Linked DNA regions of Homo sapiens: region 2 is linked to region 1. Evidence: fine-mapped expression QTL. A gene starts in region 1. The other region holds a variant in brackets. All regions are shown on one strand. Distances are from middle to middle.

Region 1 (9,829 bases):
CACACCCACTCTGACTCCCATAAAACCCAGCGGCTCTGTTTCTCTGCCTCCTGATCTACTAGTCACACAGGAGATTGGAGTAAAACTGGTGGCTTTCCCATTCCCCAGGGGCTGAAAGGAGGAAGGAACAAATGAGATATAACCAAAAGACCATGAGGAACAGGAAACTCCCTCTGGCTTCCAGAAAGGAAAACTAAGAGGGGAATGAGGCACAGAGGCCGAGGCAGGAAGGCGTGAAAAGATGGAACAGGCGATTCCGGAGCTTAGTAGTAGGTGAGTAGGTGAGATGATCCAACTCCCTTGGGAAAACTGCTGGCATTCAGGTTCCAGGCAAGAACTAGGCCAGGGGAGACTGGGTGCGGTGGCTCACGCCTGTAATCCCAGCACTTTGGGAGGCCGAGGCAGGTGGATCACTCGAGGACAGGAGTTCGAGACCAGCCTGGGCAACATGGTGAAACCCCATCTCTACTAAAAATACAAAAATTAGCCGGGTGTGGTGGCACACGCCTGTAATCCCAGCTACTCAGGAGGCTGAGGCAGGAGAATCGCTTGAACCCAGGAGGTGGAGGTTGCAGTGAACTGAGATCGCACCACTGCACTCTAGCCTTGGCAACTGAGAGAGACTCTGTCTCAAAAAAATAAAAAAAATAAGCTGGGCATGGTGGTGTATGCCTGTAATCCCAGCTACTTGGGAGGCTGAGGCACAAGAATCACTTGAGCCCGGGAGGCAGAGGTTGCAGTGAGCTGAGATTATGCCAATGCACTCCAGGCTGGGAGACAGAGTGAGAATTTGTCTCAAAAAAAAAAAAAAAAAAAAAAGAAAGAAAGAAAAGAAAGCTTGGAGCTGGGAGAGGCAGAAATCCTTGCTGTTCGAAGGCCAACACATTCATTTTAAAGCTCCTTCCCTTACCTCCCCAGAGGATTCTCCATACTGAACCTCACTGTCTTCCCTCCCATCTTCCCCTACTCCTCCTAGCAGCGAGCAATCCCATTTTAACTGCTTTCACCTGAGCACTTCAGAACTCAGAAGGATACATTCTGCACATTTCTAAGATCCTGGAACCTAATGCAAGTTCTTATGGCCCAGGGACTTTTCTCCCATGCCCACGCTTAACCTCTCAACCTTTAATTTTAGAAGGGGATTCTATTTCACAAGCTACTATCAGTGTAAAGGAGCTCCAGGTAAAGAAGGAGGTCTACACTTAGCTCATAGTCCTGTCTACACTGACCAGTGCTCTCAGGGAGATCCCAGCAATAGCAACAACTACCAAAAACCTTCCAACCTTACTGGCTCCGGCTCACCCACAGGAAAGGAATCCCTCAGGTCAAAGCCACAAGAGGCTGCCTCGTTAAACTCTTTCCTCCCTAGATCTAGACTTCTTTCCTGTCATCCTGAACCTGAACCTCCGCAGTCTACCAAGTCCCTGCCAAAATGAGGGCGGAGATAGAACAGCCCTCAACAGATGGTAGAAAGCATCAGCCGGGCTTTGGATTCAAAGGGTGGCAAAACAGGCTGAGTCTCCATGGTGATGGGCTTAATGGGAGAAAAACATTATTTGTTTTGCCACCCAGGGTGAAAATGGGAAAAAGGAAGAGATCAAACCCTCTTCAGTGGGGTAGGAGCAACCAGGAACACTTGAAATAAGGAGGAAGAGGCTAGAGAAAGGACTGGTTGGTGAACTCCTGGTATATTGTGGGAAATTTTAAGACAGAAAGAACAAGGATGAGGCTGGCCAGGAGGAAGACATACAAAAAAAGGACTCAGTGGCAGGGCTGCTGAACCTCCATGGCTGGGGGCGTCACTTAGCCCGTTTCCTGCCCAGAAGCAACAGCGCCTGCTCCCCAGCCCTAAAATGCCTCCAAGCCCCTCTGACTTTCCCCACCCTCCATTGCTAAGCATCCTCTGCCCCAGCAAGTACCCACCAGGCTCCTCCTTGGGGAGCTCAGCCTGCAGCTCTGGCTCACTGACAGCCGGGGCATTCCCCTGCTCCTGTGTGGCCACAGCAGCCCGAGTGGCCCGCCCTGACCAGCTTGCCTGGGAGCTTCCTCGGCCACTCAATCGCTGCTTCTTCTCAGCTTTGCTGGACATCGTGCAGGCAAAACCTACAGGTATACAGGAGTGGAGAGTCTACAAGCAGATACCACCCCTGAACCAGCCCCCTGATACAAGCAGTCCCTTTTGAATTCATAAATTGACTGAAACTCAATATGATCATCTTTTCTGGTGGTACCCACACCCTGCTCCATTAACCACAAGGGCTCTGTACTCCACAGGGGCCTGGGAGGCCTTGCTGTTTTTCCCTAGGATATCCTACTGTCTTCGGGGCACTGGGCTAAAAATCAAAGTCAGTCCCTCAAGGCACTAGGAACAAATGGGAGTTAAAGATGATGGCCAGGCTGGGTGCGGTGGCTCATGCTTGTAATCCCAGCATTTTGGGAGGCCGAGCCGGGTGGATCACCTGAGGTCAGGAGTTCGAGACCAGCCTGGCCAACATGGCAAAACCCCGTCTCTACTAAAAATACAAAAAATTAGCCAGGAGTGGTGGTGCGTGCCTGTAATTCCAGCTACTCGGGAGGCTGAGGCAGGAGAATCTCTTGAACCCGAGAGGTAGAGGCTGCAGTGAGCCAAGATCATGCTACTATACTCCAGCCTGGCTGACAGAGTGAGACTCTATCTCAAAAAAAAAAAAAAAAAAGATGGCCAGACACCCCACTAATGAGGATTTAGAACCTCTATCTCTGCCCCGGGGTATGAGAACATAAGATAATCAGGAAAAGATCTATCAAGCTGAAGTGTGGTTGCCCAAACCCTCATCCACTCTACCCTCCAGGACCATGAGTGAGTGAGAGAGGATCAAGGAAGGGGTGCACATCCCCCATCCTTTGTCACTGTTCAATCATTCAAGCAAACCAAGATGATTTTCCTATGTACCTCTTTTCCTCCCAAGTTAAATGGAAATATGCTCCTCCCAATCCCACTAAAATCTGCAACATCTGTAAACAGAGAAAAACAGTATTTGCCACCTGGGTCTATCGCTTTGAAGTCCTGAGGGGCAGGAACACTGTTTTGTGTGTACTGAGGTCTCTTAGCAGAGTTGGCTGAGGAACTCTGTGCTAATGGTTAAGATCAGTCAGGATCATTTATTTGACTCAAAATGCCCTGAGAACAGATTGGAAGAAAGAAGGACAAAAGTCATCCAATCATAAATTTCAAATTGTGTCATGAGGAAAAAGCAATTGGGGCACGAGGAAGGTCACAGTGGTGCCTCTCTCAGAAAGGTAGGATGGCAGGAAGCGGGGATCTCGGACAGGTGCTCAGAATCCCAGGCGCAAAGTCTGAGGCGCTGGGCACTCTCTTTTCATTAGGCTGCAGCCTAACGGCACCTGTGGCTCTCCTTCCTCATCCCCACAGGCTGCCACAGGCATTGATCTCAGGTTATGAATTTCAAACTTGAAGGATTTGTACTTTGCTCCAAGGAAAAACGTTCTGTTAGGCCAGCAAATCAATAAAACCAACTACAGCAAGGAGGCTTCCTCCATCAGTCTCCAGAGAAGCATCAAGCTGCGCTTTCCTGCCTCAAACTAGAGCCTGAGGCGCATGCACCGTGGGGTTCACCACGCGATCCCACACCGCAGGCCCCAGGAGGAACTGCTCTGCTAAGTCGGGGCTCACTCTAGTACTAGGAAATACCGCAGGGGCCAGCAGTATTTATCCTGCAGTATAAATCCAGCAGTATTTATCCAGCAGTATTTATACCAGCAGCTGGTATCCTTAAACTGGTTACCAGCAGGCAAATTTCCCCTCAGAATGGCTCTTCCCCCCCAGCTGTCACAACTGCCCCTTCTCCTCCCCCTCCCCCACACAAATATTCCTTGCTCCCTCTCCCTCCACAACTGCCTCTTCTCCCCAACAACTGTCCCTTCCTACCCCGACACTACTGCCCCTTCTCCCCAGCACTCCTTCCCTCCTTCCCTCTGCCCCCGACACACACCTTGCCACGCTGACCCTCCCCTCCCTAGACCGACCGATGGGCCACTCTAAGAAGTTGCCCCTCGCAGCCCTCTCGGGCCGGCGTCTGCACGCGTCCCCATGGCAACCCCGGGCAGGGAGGGGCGAGTGGCCGGTGTGCGGCCCCTCGGAGCCCGCCTCCTCCGCGCAGGCGCCCTGGATCCCTGCTTCGCGGCCCCACCCCGCCCAGGTCTACCCCTCAGGGACCCAGGGCTTGAAGGCTCCGGGACTAAAGGAAAGTAGCCACATCTGGCGAGCCGAAGGGTGCGGGGGGCCTGGTGTCAGGACCCAGCTGGAAGGGCTGGGGCGAGAGACAGTGAGCCACCGCCCCGCAGGACATTGAAAAGGCAGGGAGAACCCAATCGCCCGACCCCGCGCCCAGGTCTGTGCGCCCCAGCCGGAACGGGTCCAGCAGATGGCGCCGGGCGCCAGGCCGGCGAGGGATATTCGCGATGTAGAAGGCGTTCCAGGATTTCCAGGCAGCCGTGGGTGCAGCTGGATCCGGGGGAAAAACCGGGCCTGGAGCACCCTTGCCCTCCTGCTCCTTCCCCCTTCTTAGTTCGGATTGGGGTCTAGGATTGCGGGGGGGCGGCGCGGGGCGGGGAAAGGGAGGGAAGACGGGAACTGGAGTTTTGGGAATCTGAGGATTGGCTTTCGAAGGCATCGCTGGTTTTTGGGGGGGATGAGAGGCGGGGACTCCCTGGGGAAGGTGACCGGGCCTGGGAGGGGCTTCGCTCTCCATAGGAACAAAGGCTGCGTCGTGAGAGAGGAGGCGAGAGGGGAGGGCTATGAGGGCCGGGGTACATCTCCGAGGGTGCCAGGGGGCGCTGCGGGCCGGGGCTGCTAGAAGGCGCCTGGAAGACCGCTGTACCTGGTGCCGGGAGGAGCTTTGGGGAGACCTGGGAAATACAGGGAGGAAGCCGAGTGGGGGGATGGGAAGGCGCCCTCCCTGTTTCCATCAATAGTGCCTAATTAAGACAAAGCCAGCAGCGAGCCCACTGATTACATTTCCATGAGGAGCGAAATTTATGACATTTTCTTTGCTGGATGAGGAGAAGAGAAGCTGGCACCTCAGTTCCCCCATTTTCTGTTTGGCGTTCACACCTAACAGATCTCATTATGCCAGCCTGGCACTACCAGGAGTGGCAGTCCCTGGTACTCCTGAAGAGCAAGTGGATTAACCACACCCTATCCCAGCGCTGACCTCACCCTCCCACCTACCGTATCTTTATTCCCAGAAGTGTCAACCCTTTCCCTCCCCCCGACCCCCAATAATTCCTCCTGCCCAGCCAGACTCCTGTTGCTGACAGCAGGAATGGAAGGAGAGGAGTACCGCCCACCCCAAAACCAGCTGCACAGCTAGCACAGCTAAGATGGAACGTGGAGGTGTTCCTCTAGCCAGATAGGCCATGGGTGGCAGACAGAGGTGATGTGGTTGGCCAGAACCCCTAGGGAAAAGTCCCAAAGGAGTGAAAATTTGCTGGAGGCGTGGGGTGGGGAGCCTCAGGGGCAAGGTTCATGGGTCCCTCGGGGAAAGGAACTTTGCACAGACCCCATTTCTTTTCTTAAACCCCCCTCCCCAACTGTGGCTGTGCCTACGGATCCCAGCCCCCCACATTATGCTAAATAGGTAATCAAACATCTCGCTTTGCTAATTACTGCTCAATCCGATTAAACGCTGCTGAAGCTCATCAACAGAGGTGGAGGTAGGGGGAAGGGACGAAGGCGGGGCAACCACAGCTAGCTATGATGGGGGTCTTTTCCCCAGGGGCTCTTCGGGGCTAGAGAAACAGCCAGGGTTGCAAGACCGTGTACATCCCAAAGGAAAGGGCAGAAGAGTTGTGACCTCGAGCCTCAGCCTTGCTGCACCTCCCAGCCACGGCCCTTTTCCTCCTCCCAGAACCTTCATTACCCTCCGAACCCAGGCATCCGGCCATTCCCACAGCTCCCCACACACATCCCTGTCCCAGATTTAATAAGTTCTGTTCCCTCATTGTCAATATTTGATTTCTCAGAGCCATCTCCACGGAGAGGGGGGTGGGGGATCTTTCCTTGCCTCCCCCCTACTTTGGCCCTCTTTTGCCCACCCCCAGTCTCTTTGTGCCCCCAACCTTCTCTGAACTTGCTGACTTAATGAAATGATATTAAAGTCTTAAGCAACTCCAAAAGAATGGTTGTTATGGTGAAGGGAGTGGGCAGGACGCCTGGGTCCCGGAGGGGAGCAAAGGCTGAGGAGGGGGAAAGGGAGCCAGAGGCTAAGGTCTAGAGACCCCAGTCCCTAGTGGGGAACAGCAGATTTGGGGTGAGCTGGGGGCCAGACCTCTGGATCTTGGCTGGAAGCAGGGGATGAGGACTGGGGGCTAGGAGAAGGTGGAAAGAGAGGTCCATTCCAGGGGTCAGGGTCTCGGCCTGCTGTCCGGATCATTCATCAGAGACAGAGGCCAGGGGAGACAGGGCCTCTATGCCAGCAGCCTCCCTGCCGGCTGTGCCCTGGGCTGGTCCCGTGAGAACCAGAGTAGATTACTCTACAGCCTGACTCATCCTTCTCCCCCAGCAGCCCCCCACAGGTGATTTGTAGCTGATGCCCCCACGATGGTAGGGGCCAGGATAGTCATTCCATGACATGAAGAACTGAGAGCTTCCAGGACAGAAGAGAACAGAGGCCAAGGGAAAGGAAGCCAAGCACCCCCCTTCACCTCCCCCCACCCATCCCCATCTCCCCTGGGGACCCTGGCCCAGCCCCAGTCCCCTTGGGGTGGTGGGAATGCAAGGACATTTGGCTGGGGCTGATTGATGAGGGAGGAGGCAGCCACCGGGCACTGAGGCTGCTGTTTGCTGAGCACACAGATTCCTCCCAACTCACCAGCTGCTACCCCCTGAAGCAGCTCAGTCTCCCCCCGACATCACCCCGCCAGCCACTGGGGTTGCGGTGCCTGAGTTTCTGATGGCAACTGGAGGAAGAGGGAGAACCAGAAAACTGAACACTTCGATTCCCTGTGGGAATTGGGGTACCTGGGGCCTGGTCCCCTCAGAACTCCCTTCAGAACTCCACTTTCCCTGCTACCTTTCAAGTAGCTCTCTGGCTGCCCAGTTGTCATTCCCATTCATTCTGTGTCCCTTTTCCTTCCCCCACCCAACTCTGAGCCTATGCCAGACAGCCTCCTGCCTCCAAACCACCGTGTGACATTTCTCCCAGGTCTCAAAACTCTCCCAAGCCCCATGTCCACGGTGGCCCATATAGCCCCTTAGGAAGGGCCATTTTTCATTCTAATTAAAATTCCAGATATGATGTCAACCATTCCGCATCAGAAATTCCCACTGCAAGGCCAGGCACAGTGGCTCACATCTGTAATTCCAGCACTTTGGGAAGCTGAGGTGGGTGGATCACCTGAGGTCGGGAGTTCAAGACCAGCCTGGCCAATGTGGTGAAACCCCATCTCTACTAAAAATACAAAAAATTAGCCGGGCGTGGTGGCACATGCCTGTAGTCCCAGCTACTCGGGAGGCTGAGGCACGAGAATTGCACCACTGCACTCCAGCCTGGGCCACAGAGCGAGACTGTCTCAAAAAAAAAAAAAAAGAAAAGAAAAAGAAAAGAAATTCCCACTGCCACTCCTTGCCCCATTCCCCTTTCCCTAAAAACCCCCAACACACACACACACACACACACACACACACGCACACACACACGCACCTCGGGCTGAATAGTATCCCTCAGCTGCCGTTATTTGGAAGGAGGGCAAAGCCTGAGCTTCACTCTACAGCTCAGCCCCAAGACAGCCTCAATCCTATGCGGTTTGGGGATGGCAGGGCGACAGCTCTAGCTTCTGTGGTCCCAGCCCTCTCGGTTCCTTTACTTCCGCTCTGCCTTCCTGCTCTGGACTCTGCCAGCAGCTGTGCCACAGCCCCCAAAAAAGCTCAGAGCATCATCCTTGCCCTCCCAGAGCTTAAAATTTAGACGAGGAAAACACAAGTCACAGACACACAAGAAACAAAAGGCAAGGGGATGGGAGACTGAGTGAGATCAACTTCCTTAATGTGGATCCAAGACCCTAAGTGACTTACTCCCCTCCAGGCCGAGGCTAGGGAAGAACAGGACACATCCGAAACATGCATGTGGTGGTGATGTCCTTCTTACTGTTCCCAAACACACCACAATCTCACCTCTGTGCCCGTGCACTTGCTGTTCCTCTGTCTAGCATGCCCGTCCCCAGTGTGCATGGCTTACTCCTGTCTCATGACTTAAGGTCCTGATCAAGGGCATCTCTTTCAAAGGGACCTTCCTGACCTCCTCATCTAAAGCAGCTCCAGGCCGGGTGCGGTGGCTCATGCCTGTCATCCCAGCACTTTGGGAGGCCAAGGTGGGCTGAGCACCTAAGGTCAGGAGTTCGAGACCAGCCTGGCCAACATGTTGAAACCCCGACCCTACTAAAAATACAAAACTTAGCTGGGCAAGGTGGCGGGCACCTGTTAATCCTAGCTACTTGGGAGGCTGAGGCAGGACAATCATCGCTTGAGCCCGGGAGGTGGAGGTTGCAGTTAGCCGAGATCGCGCCACTGCACTCCAGCCTGGGCAACAGAGCAAGATTCCATCTCAAAAATAAATAAATTAATAAATTAATAAATAAATAAAGCAGCTCCTGGTTACTCTCCATCCTCCTCATCCTGTCATTCTGTTTTGTTTATATCCCTTTTCACACCTGAAATTGTATTATTTCGTTCCCCACCTAAATGTGGACTTTGTGAAAGCGGGGACCTGGCCTTACTCACCCTGTCCTCCCAGCGCCTGAACCGGTGCCTGAAACAAAGTAGCATTTAACATGCTGCTGAGCGAGTGAACGAACAAACCAATGAACAAACAAATGTCTTCCTGTGCCTGTAGTCGTTTTGCTGTAGTTGTTTTGTTGCAGTTGTTACTCTAGGAATATGTGTGTGTATTTGTCCCCACAAAGCAAATAGGACGGCCTGTGTTATTCTGCGTGGAAGTCACCAGCATTTTCAAATAGCTCCAGACACCCAAGTCACTACACATGTGAAAGGCTGTTGGTCTTGTGCTATTCGAGCGGGGCTGCGGGGAGTCTCTGGATGCCAGCGCTCTGAGGGGGCGTGTCCCAGGCGCTGTGCAGTCTGTGCTGTTCCTCTCCCTGGCTGTGCATCTGTCCCCAGGTGTCTTCCTGTCTCTCAGCATGTTATGATGTCTTGGCTGCTTTGGCGAGGTGCTTGTCTGTCACGGAGACTATTTATCCCCACGTCTCTTCCCTCTTGTCTCTCCACCTGTGCCTCTAGATGTAGGTGGAGGGGGAGTCTCCCTGATCTCCCTTGCCCCTCACACACCACCCTGCCCCAGTCTTGGACCCCTCCCTTTCTCAGTGGGCCCTGTTGCTGGGCTCTGGGTTGCCATAGTGACGGTTGCCAAGTCCCTGAGGCTGATAGCCAGCGATGGGGCTGTCGGCTCCATCCACGCGGGAGGCTGAGGGGGGCTTCCCATTGTGTAGAGAAGGGGATGTTGCCATGACAACCAACCCCCACTAAGGGGCAAGGACCAGCCTTTCCACCCCCTACGAGCCTCCCCACTTCGGGCAGCTCCAGTGTGGGCTCAGAAGGCAAGAGTAAATTCCAGACAGCCCAGTACCTGGCCTCCCAGCTTTCAACTCCCCTCCTGCGGTGCCCGCACCTCTCAAGACCCAGGCATCTTGCTCAGACGGGGAGGGGGAGGAGCAGGGGTCCCACTGGACAGAAGAGAGGAAGAGGGACCCCTTGACCTCCAGACAGATGGGAGACAGCGGGAGGGGACCTAAAGTCAGGGGAGGGGCAGGGAGG
Region 2 (8,000 bases), 24 kb before region 1:
CTTTTGTTTTCTCTCATATTTGAAATGTAAATACTTGGCCAGACACAGTGGCTCATGCCTGTAATCCCAGCACTTTGGGAGGCCGAGGTGGCCAGATCACCTGAGGTCAGGATTTTAAGACCAGCTTGGCCAACATGGCAAAACACCATCTCTAATAAAAACACAAAAATTAGCCGGGCGTGGTGGCGGGCGCCTGTAATCCCAGATACTCGGGAGGCTGAGGCAGGAGAATTGCTTGAACTCAGGAGGCGGAGGTTGCAGTGAGCCAAGATTGCGCCACTGCACTCCAACCTGGGCGACAGAGTGAGACTCTGTCTCAAGAAAAAAAAAAAAAGAAATGTAAAGATTGATCATTAGTGTTTAAGGAAATCCTGTTATTTGAATACAATCCCTTATTTCACAGAAAAAGGACAGCTGGTGAACTGTGTGCCCTCATATCCATAAACACCAAGGGCATCTGTGCGGCTCCCCTGACACAATAACTTTGGGGGTACCCAGCTCGATGGGAGAATGTGTCTTGCAGGTTCAACCCCATTATGCGCTTGCAAATGGCGTAACTAGGCTAACTCTGGCCTAGTTTCTCAGTCTTCAGAATCTTATCGTTGATTTATGAGGCAATGTTTACGTGGCTGTGCTTGGCCATAACTCACAAAACCAGGAAGCTCAGCAAAGCCAATCTCCAACAACTCTCACTACTCGAAGCCTTTTCTCAAACCTCTCGACCTAGCCATGTGCACACTCTGCTCCTCAACGGCTTCCTCATCCCTGCAGCTCCCAACATCCCTGTCCTCCTCACTGATGCCTCTGCCTCACCCCTCTCACCTGACACTCCGCTCTGCTTCTCCATCCTGGTTCTTTTGCTTCCTTTCTCAGCCAGAATGTGCCCTCTTCCCCTGGTTGGGCCACCTTTTGCTGCCCAGGACAAACACTCACAGTCTCATCTGTCCCTGGGACTCCGTCTCCACACAGCACTTCTCTGGCAAAGCCCCTCCTACATTTGGCCCCACAAGCATTTTTTTTTTTTTTTTTTTTTTTTTGAGACGGAGACTCACTCTGTCGCCCAGGCTGGAGTGCAATGGCGTGATCTCGGCTCACTGCAACCTCCGCCTCCCGGGTTCAAGCGATTTTCCTGCCTCAGCCTCCCAAGTAGCTAGGATTATAGGCACCTGCCACAATGCCCAGCTAATTTTTGTATTTTTAGTAGAGACAGGGTTTCGCCATGCTGGCCAGGCTCAAGCATGGACATTTTATGAGTGGAATCCAACACTAGTAGCCACAGCCTCAAAGCATCTTATGTGGACAGGAAGCCCCACTCCAAGAGTAGAGCTGTTGACTTAGAAAGCAGCAGCCTAACCTCCCTGAGGGCAGGGACTTGGCCGTTGTGTACATTCCCTGCCTGTTCCTATTTCAGTTCCTGACACATGGAAGGTGCTCACTATATATTTTTAATAAATTAGTTAATTGATTAATTACATTTTAAATAATTATAGTATGACAGTTTCATAACAATGAAGCTGTAGAAGAAGGCATGGTCTGACAGCCCCACCAACAGTCAGGAAAGGGACAGGGTTTGGGTGACTTAGCTGAGCCATTATGGCCATCTAGTGGCAGAACAGCGACATCACTGGTTTAGTCAGATAGTGGAGTGGTTTTTGATTTTTGTTTTTGAGGCAGGGTCACTCTGTCGCCCAGGCTGGAGTGTAGTGGTGTGATCTCAGCTCACTGCAGCCTCTGCCTCCCGGGCTCAGGCGATCCTCCCACCTCACCCTCCCAAGTAGCTGAGACTACAGGCTTGTGCCACCACGCCCAGCTAATCTTTGTATTTTTTGCAGAGACTGGGTTTTGCCATGTTGCCCAGGCTGTTCTCAAACTCCTGGGCTCAAGCGATGCGCCCACCTCAGCCTCCCAAAGTGCTGGGATTACAGGTGTGAGCCACCGTGCCTGGCCGATCATTGTTTTGTTTTGTTGTGTTTTAAGATAAGTTGTAAAATTAAAATGTTGATAGCAGGGTGGGAGGTGGGGAGAGACAAAAATAAAAGAAGAAAAAAAAAAGTAAAATGACGATAGCAAACATATTGTATGAGAAAGAGAGAGAATAATGAAGAGAGGAGTCAAAAGATGGGAGTGAAATTCTTGGGAGAGCTGCAGAAGGGGAGTATAGGGAAAAGGGGCCAGGTGGCTCCTGTACTTGTCAAAGTTGACATCCAGCATGCCCGCCTTCTCCTGGCTGATTCGCAGCAATGGGGTATCCAACCGCCGAATGCAATCCTTGTCCAGACTTGATGTCCACTCTTGGAAGGTTTTTCGAACCAGCTCATCAATGGCCTGGACCATCTGCTGATAGGTGTGCACACTCTCCTTTCCAGTCCCAATACGGGGCAGGAAATGAGCACCAGCAAGGCACTGAGGGGAAGAAGAACAGGTGGGTGGAGTCGGCCTGCCACCTTCCTCCAGGGGCCACCATCTCCCTGAGACCTACACATGCGCGCATGCGCACATACCCCAACAATATGCATAAGGCTTGCTATGGAGATGGATTGAGTTTTGATAACTTAGAAGGAAGGTAGAGTCAAAAAGGAAGGTGATAGGAAGAGACCAAGGCGCAATGAGAAAAGGAGTCAAAATGAGGAAAGAGAAGCACAGAGAATTTGTTTAGGAAAAAAAGCTGGGAGAAAAAGGTCAGTCACAGAAGGAGCAGGATATGAGGCACAAGGTTGAAAACCAGTATCAGCCCTTCCTAGCCTGGGCGTAGTCCACCAGGCCCAAACCAGCCTCCAGCTATCTGCAGGCTGCCTAACTCTCTACCAGCACCAGCTGCATGATGGCAGGTCACTACCTCAACAGCTTTCAACCTTTATTCCCAAAGGGTGTGTGTGTTCATTTGTTTGTTTTGTTTGTTTGTGACAGAGTCTCTCTCCACCACCCAGGCTGGAGTACAGTGGCGCGATCTCGGCTCACTGCAACTTCTGCCTCCAGGGTTCAAGCAATTGTCCTGCCTTAGCCTCCCAAATAGCTGGGATTACAGGTGCCCGCCACCACACCTGGCTAACTTTTTGTATTTTTAGTAGAGACAGGGTCTCACCATGTTGGCCAAACTGGTCATGAACTCCTAACTTCAAATGATCCACCCACCTTGGCCTCCCAAAGTGCTGGGATTACAGGTGTGAGCCACCGCACCTGGCCCCAGAAAGTTTTAAAACAATGTTTTTCTGTTGTTTCTTTGTGCTGTCTTTCCAGAGAGACCAGGCTCTGTAAGGGTGTCACCTGTCCAGGTCTCTGGATCATGAGGCTGTATCTTCTACTGACCCAACACCCCAGATACCGGCCCTATTCCTCCTCTGCAGCCTGATATGAAATTCCTAAAATGAGGCCGGGCGCAGTGGCTCATGCCTGTAATCCCAGCAATTTGGGAGGCCAAGGTGGGTGGATCACCTGAGGTCGGGAGTTCGAGACCAGCCTGACCAACATGGAGAAACCTCTTCTCTACTAAAAATACAAAATTAGCCGGGCGTGGTGGTGCATGCCTGTAATCCCAGCTCCTGAGAGGCTAAGGCAGGAGAATCGCTTGGACCTGGGAGGCGAAGGTTGCGGTGAGCCGAGATCACACCACTGCACTCCAGCCTGGGCAACAAGAGCAAAACTCCATCTCAGAAAAAAAGAAAAAAGAAAAAGAAGCCGGGCGCGGTGGCTCACGCCTGTAATCCCAGCACTTTGGGAGGCCCAGGTGGGTGGATCATGAGGTCAGGAGACTCAGACCATCCTGGCTAACACGGTGAAACCCCATCTCTACTAAAAATACAAAAAAATTAGCTGGGTGCGGTGGCGGGCACCTGTAGTCCCAGCTACTCGGGAGGCTGAGGCAGGAGAATGGTGTGAACCCGGGAGGCAGAGCTTGCAGTGAGCTGAGATCGAGCCATTGCACTCCAGCCTGGGCGACAGTGTGAGACTCCGTCTCAAAAAAACAAAAAGAAAGGAAGGAAGGAAGGAAGGAAGGAAGGAAGGAAGGAGGGAGGGAGGGAGGGAGGGAAGGAAGGAAGAAAGAAAGAAAGAAAGAAAGAAAGAAAGAAAGAAAGAAAGAAAGAAAGAAAGAAAGAGAGAGAGAAAAAAAAGAAAGGAAGGAAGAAAAGAAATTCCTAAAATGGCGCAT[G/T]TTCTACCAGCCTCACACACCACCTCTGCAGATCTTAACCCACGACTGACCTCACTGAACTGGACCTGCCACTCCCCTCACCGACATAGGTGCTGGTCCTGAAGACTCTTTGGGGAACCTCTCAGGAGCCATCCCCCATCCCTCCTGGCGGTCTCACTGACGACAGAATATGGAGAAGGCCAGGCACTTACGGTCATGACTCTGTCGATGCGACGCCGGAGGATGTGCACCCAGCGCGCCTTTCCGGAATACTGGGCCACGTAGGGCTCCAGGTCTGGCCATTTCTTGTTCCGTTCACGGTTCACCAGGGCCAGCTCGCTATTGAACAGCATGTAGAGATCCACCGCCTTCTTGTCATAAGTCCGCTTGATAGCCTAGGGAAGAAGAGGAAGAGGCTGGCGACGTGCCCGGGAAGGCGGGTTCCCTCCGGTCACTCATCCCAGAGGAAAGCTGCACCCCGCTGCGGGAGTCACACTCCCGGGGACGCCGAAGCCAGGGAACAGAAGAAAGACAAGAGGCGCCCGAATGCTGGACATGGAGAAGGGCACACGTGGAGGCAGGAGGGCCTCCGGAAGGAGGGACTCCAGGAAAGCACGCGGGACGGGAAGCCGAGGAAGCCGCGGGGCAGCCGCACCTCGCGGGAGGCAAGCCTGTGGAAGGTGTCCAGCAGAAGCACGCCGTGCGGCACGTCCCGCACCAACTCGAAGGCTGAGGTGATCAGGTTCTGGGTCATCACCTCCAGGTCCTTGATTCCGGCACGGAACCTGCACCGGTGGAGAGGCATGTGGCAGCTGAGTGCCCTCGCCTGCCCCCAACTCCAACCCCTGAGGAAGAATCCCATGCATTGCTGAGGACAGAGGGCTTCCTGTGTGCCAGGCACTCCAAGTACTTTACCTACATGAATCCATTTAATCCTCAAAACAATGCTGTGAGATGGGCTCTATCTCTAACCGTATTGCATAGAGGAGGAAGTGGAGACAGCTGGTGGAGTAATTTGCCCAATGTCATATATCTGGTATGTGGCAGAACCAAGATCCAAGTCCGGAAAGGCTCACTCTGGAACCCTCAACCCAAGCTGCCACCCCCCTCCCCTGCACTCTCTCCTGTCCCCCCCCCCGGGCCACCGCCCTGATCCCGATCTGTCCTTCCACCATTTCCTTTGCATACTCTCGCCACTCCTCCCACTCTTGGCTGCCTGATCTGCCTTCCCTGCCCACGCCTGGCATCAGCCTGTGGTTCCCTCACTTATTGTAGTCTTCATGCCAACAGGTGTTCTTGACATCCAGGATACCCCCGCGAACGGCTCGCAGCGTGTGCAGATTTTTATGAAAGATGTCCTCAATCTCCAGCAAGTTCCGTGTTATCTGTGGCCCCTGGGCACCAAAGAAGCAAGGAAGGGGACCCTGCTTGCCATCTTCCCAGCGGGCGAAGTGATACTGACAGTCACATACCTAAAAAAGAAGACAGCATGAGGGTTCCTGCTTTCCTTCCAAACTCCAAAGTCCTAAGCTATTTGGTTTAGCTTCAAATGTCTAAAAACATCACTGTGAGTGATGGCAAGTGAAAAAAAAAAAAAGAAGAAGAAAATATCTAAAAACCAGGGAGGGCCAACCAGCTGCAGGGGGCTGCTGGGATGAACTTTGGCCACAGAATGAAATATGAAATAGTAGGGCAGCGATAAGAGGCAAATGCCAGAAAAAGCGGTGTGGTAGTAGGACACACAATTGTGCAGGAAAAGCCAATGTGGTAAGTGCAATTTTCTTTTCTTTTATTTTTTTGAGACAGAGTCTCTCTCTGTTGCCCAGGCTGGAGTGCAGTGGCATGATCTCGGCTCACTGCAACCTCCGCTTCCCGGGTTCAAGAGATTCTCCTGCCTCAGCCTCCCAAGCAGCTAGGATTACAGGTATGCACCACCAGGCCCGGCTAATTTTTGTATTTTTAGTAGAGACGGGGTTTCACCATGTTGGCCAGGCTGGTCTCGAACTGCTGATCGCAGGTGATCTGCCCGCCTCAGCCTCCCAAAGTGCTGGGATTACAGGCGTGAGCCACCGCGCCTGGCCATAAGTTCAATATTTAGCCTCTGCCCCGTTTGCCCTGGTTCCTGGGGTGGGAGGTGGGGAGGGATTCTGGAGGGTCTGCTGTTAGCTTTTGGTTCTTCAGTCTTCCCACCTCAATAAGGTCCTTGCAGCGCTGCACAAAGGCATCAACCTGAGCAAAGATGCTGGTCTGATCTAGGACCCAGCCCCGACTGGAGAACCTGTGTCAGGAGAAAGGCCGACTGAATTGGAAGGCAAGAGCAGTCTGGCTATGCAAACCTAGACCAGGAGCCCTGCATTCAGGGAAAGCCCTAGAAAAATCAGACCCCGAGAAACAACCCTCCTGAATCCCAAAGGACAAGACTCAAGGTGAGAAGAACCAGACAGGAGACAGAGCATCTAAGTTCTAGGAGCAGATTCATACATAATAGAATTTTAGACGATGGGGTCAAGATAGGAGGAAAAGACCAGGTAGGGTTCCTGGGATCAGGGAGGAGAGATTATTAAAATAAGAAGCCAGGCAGGGCGTGGTGGCTCACGCCTGTAATCCCAGCACTTTGAGAGGCCAAGGCGAGCAGATCACAAGGTCAGGAGATCGAGACCACCCTGGCTAACACGGTGAAACCCTGTCTCTACTAAAAATACAAAAAATTAGCCTGGCATGGTGGCGGGCACCTGTAGTCCCAGCTACTGGGGAGGCTGAGGCAGGAGAATGGCATGAACCTCGGAGGCTGAGCTTGCAGTGAGCTGAGATCGCGCCACTGCACTCCAGCCTGGGTGGCAGACCAAGACTCTGTCTCAAAAAAAAATTAAAATTAAAATTAAAAAACAAAAAAGGAGAAGCCAGGGCAATGAGATACAGTATCTGTATCCAGACAGAAAATTTGGCCAGATGTAGAAACTCCTGGGTCTCGGAAAATACAACCAAGAGGCTAAACAAAGTGTACAGGAAAGAAGTCAGAATCTACCCTCTTACAGGGCTGACAAGGGAGTTGAGACATGGGATGTTAGGGGAGGCGTATCATACTGGATGTGCATCTGCACAGCCTGTACGTAGTGATCTTTCCAAGCGTGACAACAGAGAATGCAGCCTTGCAGGTCCTCCTTGCTGGAAGAGACATATCCCTCAAAGATCCGGTCCAGGGAGATGGCGTGGCAGCATAAGCGGATGATCTCATTGCTCATCTGCAGAAGGAGTCCCCACAGCCTCTGTCCCCACCTCCTTGACACCCAACTCCTTCTCTGCATCCCCCTGCCCGTGCTTCATGTCTCAGCCCCCTACTCCTTAATTTGACTCCTGAAACTCATCCCACCCCTGGTTCTCCACCCCTGGCCAGGCCGACACCTCTGGGTTCCATGCCCACTCCTTGTCCTAGGTGGCCCCTTACTCTGCCTCAGCCCAGCTCTGCAGCCACCCTGCCCAGCAAGGTCTCAGCTCAGTGTCCCTTCTCCCACTCTTTGGCTTTTTCACCCCCAGTGAATGCACCAGGCCCTGCTCCTCAAGAGCCGGTGCTCCTTCCTAAATCCCCTCTCCCCCACTGCAATCTCCATCTTGAGGAATGGGAAGAAGAGCTTTTCCTTCCACACAGCTCAGCTTGGGGGTCTGTTCTTCCTGCTGCTTCCCCGTCTTCCACCAACTCCTCTTCTGAAGCCCCTCTTCCTGCCTAAGCCACCTCCACCTAGAAACAGAAAGTCCAGCCCAGGCTCCAATGCTGAGCAACCCTAAAGCAGATCATGCCGGTAGAAGCCTTCTGAGCTCAGTCTCTGAGCAGAAGGGCAATCTTCACTACCTTTTCAACCACAGATCCTCTGCCGAA

Direction of the effects. Positions count from the first base shown, and alleles are read on the strand shown. Sizes are in standard deviations (SD) of each study's normalised expression.
For the expression in cerebellum of the gene that starts at base 4,080 in region 1, T is the high allele of the variant in region 2 and G is the other (moderate effect, 0.65 SD a copy in GTEx).

The links. PIP is the estimated chance that this variant, and not a neighbour inherited with it, causes the effect.
Region 2: its variant is fine-mapped to the expression of DNAH2 in cerebellum (GTEx, PIP 0.91).

The regions. Positions count from the first base shown.
Region 1 is chr17:7,711,995-7,721,823 of GRCh38, reverse strand. It overlaps DNAH2 (dynein axonemal heavy chain 2), which reads right to left and starts at 4,080. Exons shown (of 86, transcript NM_020877.5): 1 at 3,025-4,080; 2 at 1,924-2,103. The coding sequence starts at 2,089.
Region 2 is chr17:7,737,331-7,745,330 of GRCh38, reverse strand. DNAH2 (dynein axonemal heavy chain 2) reads right to left here. Exons shown (of 86, transcript NM_020877.5): 9 at 5,393-5,598; 10 at 4,782-4,911; 11 at 4,339-4,521; 12 at 2,189-2,403. Among named protein-coding and RNA genes, the nearest start is that of DNAH2, 24 kb to the right of the region's middle. The variant G/T (reference allele first, on the strand shown) is at 4,148.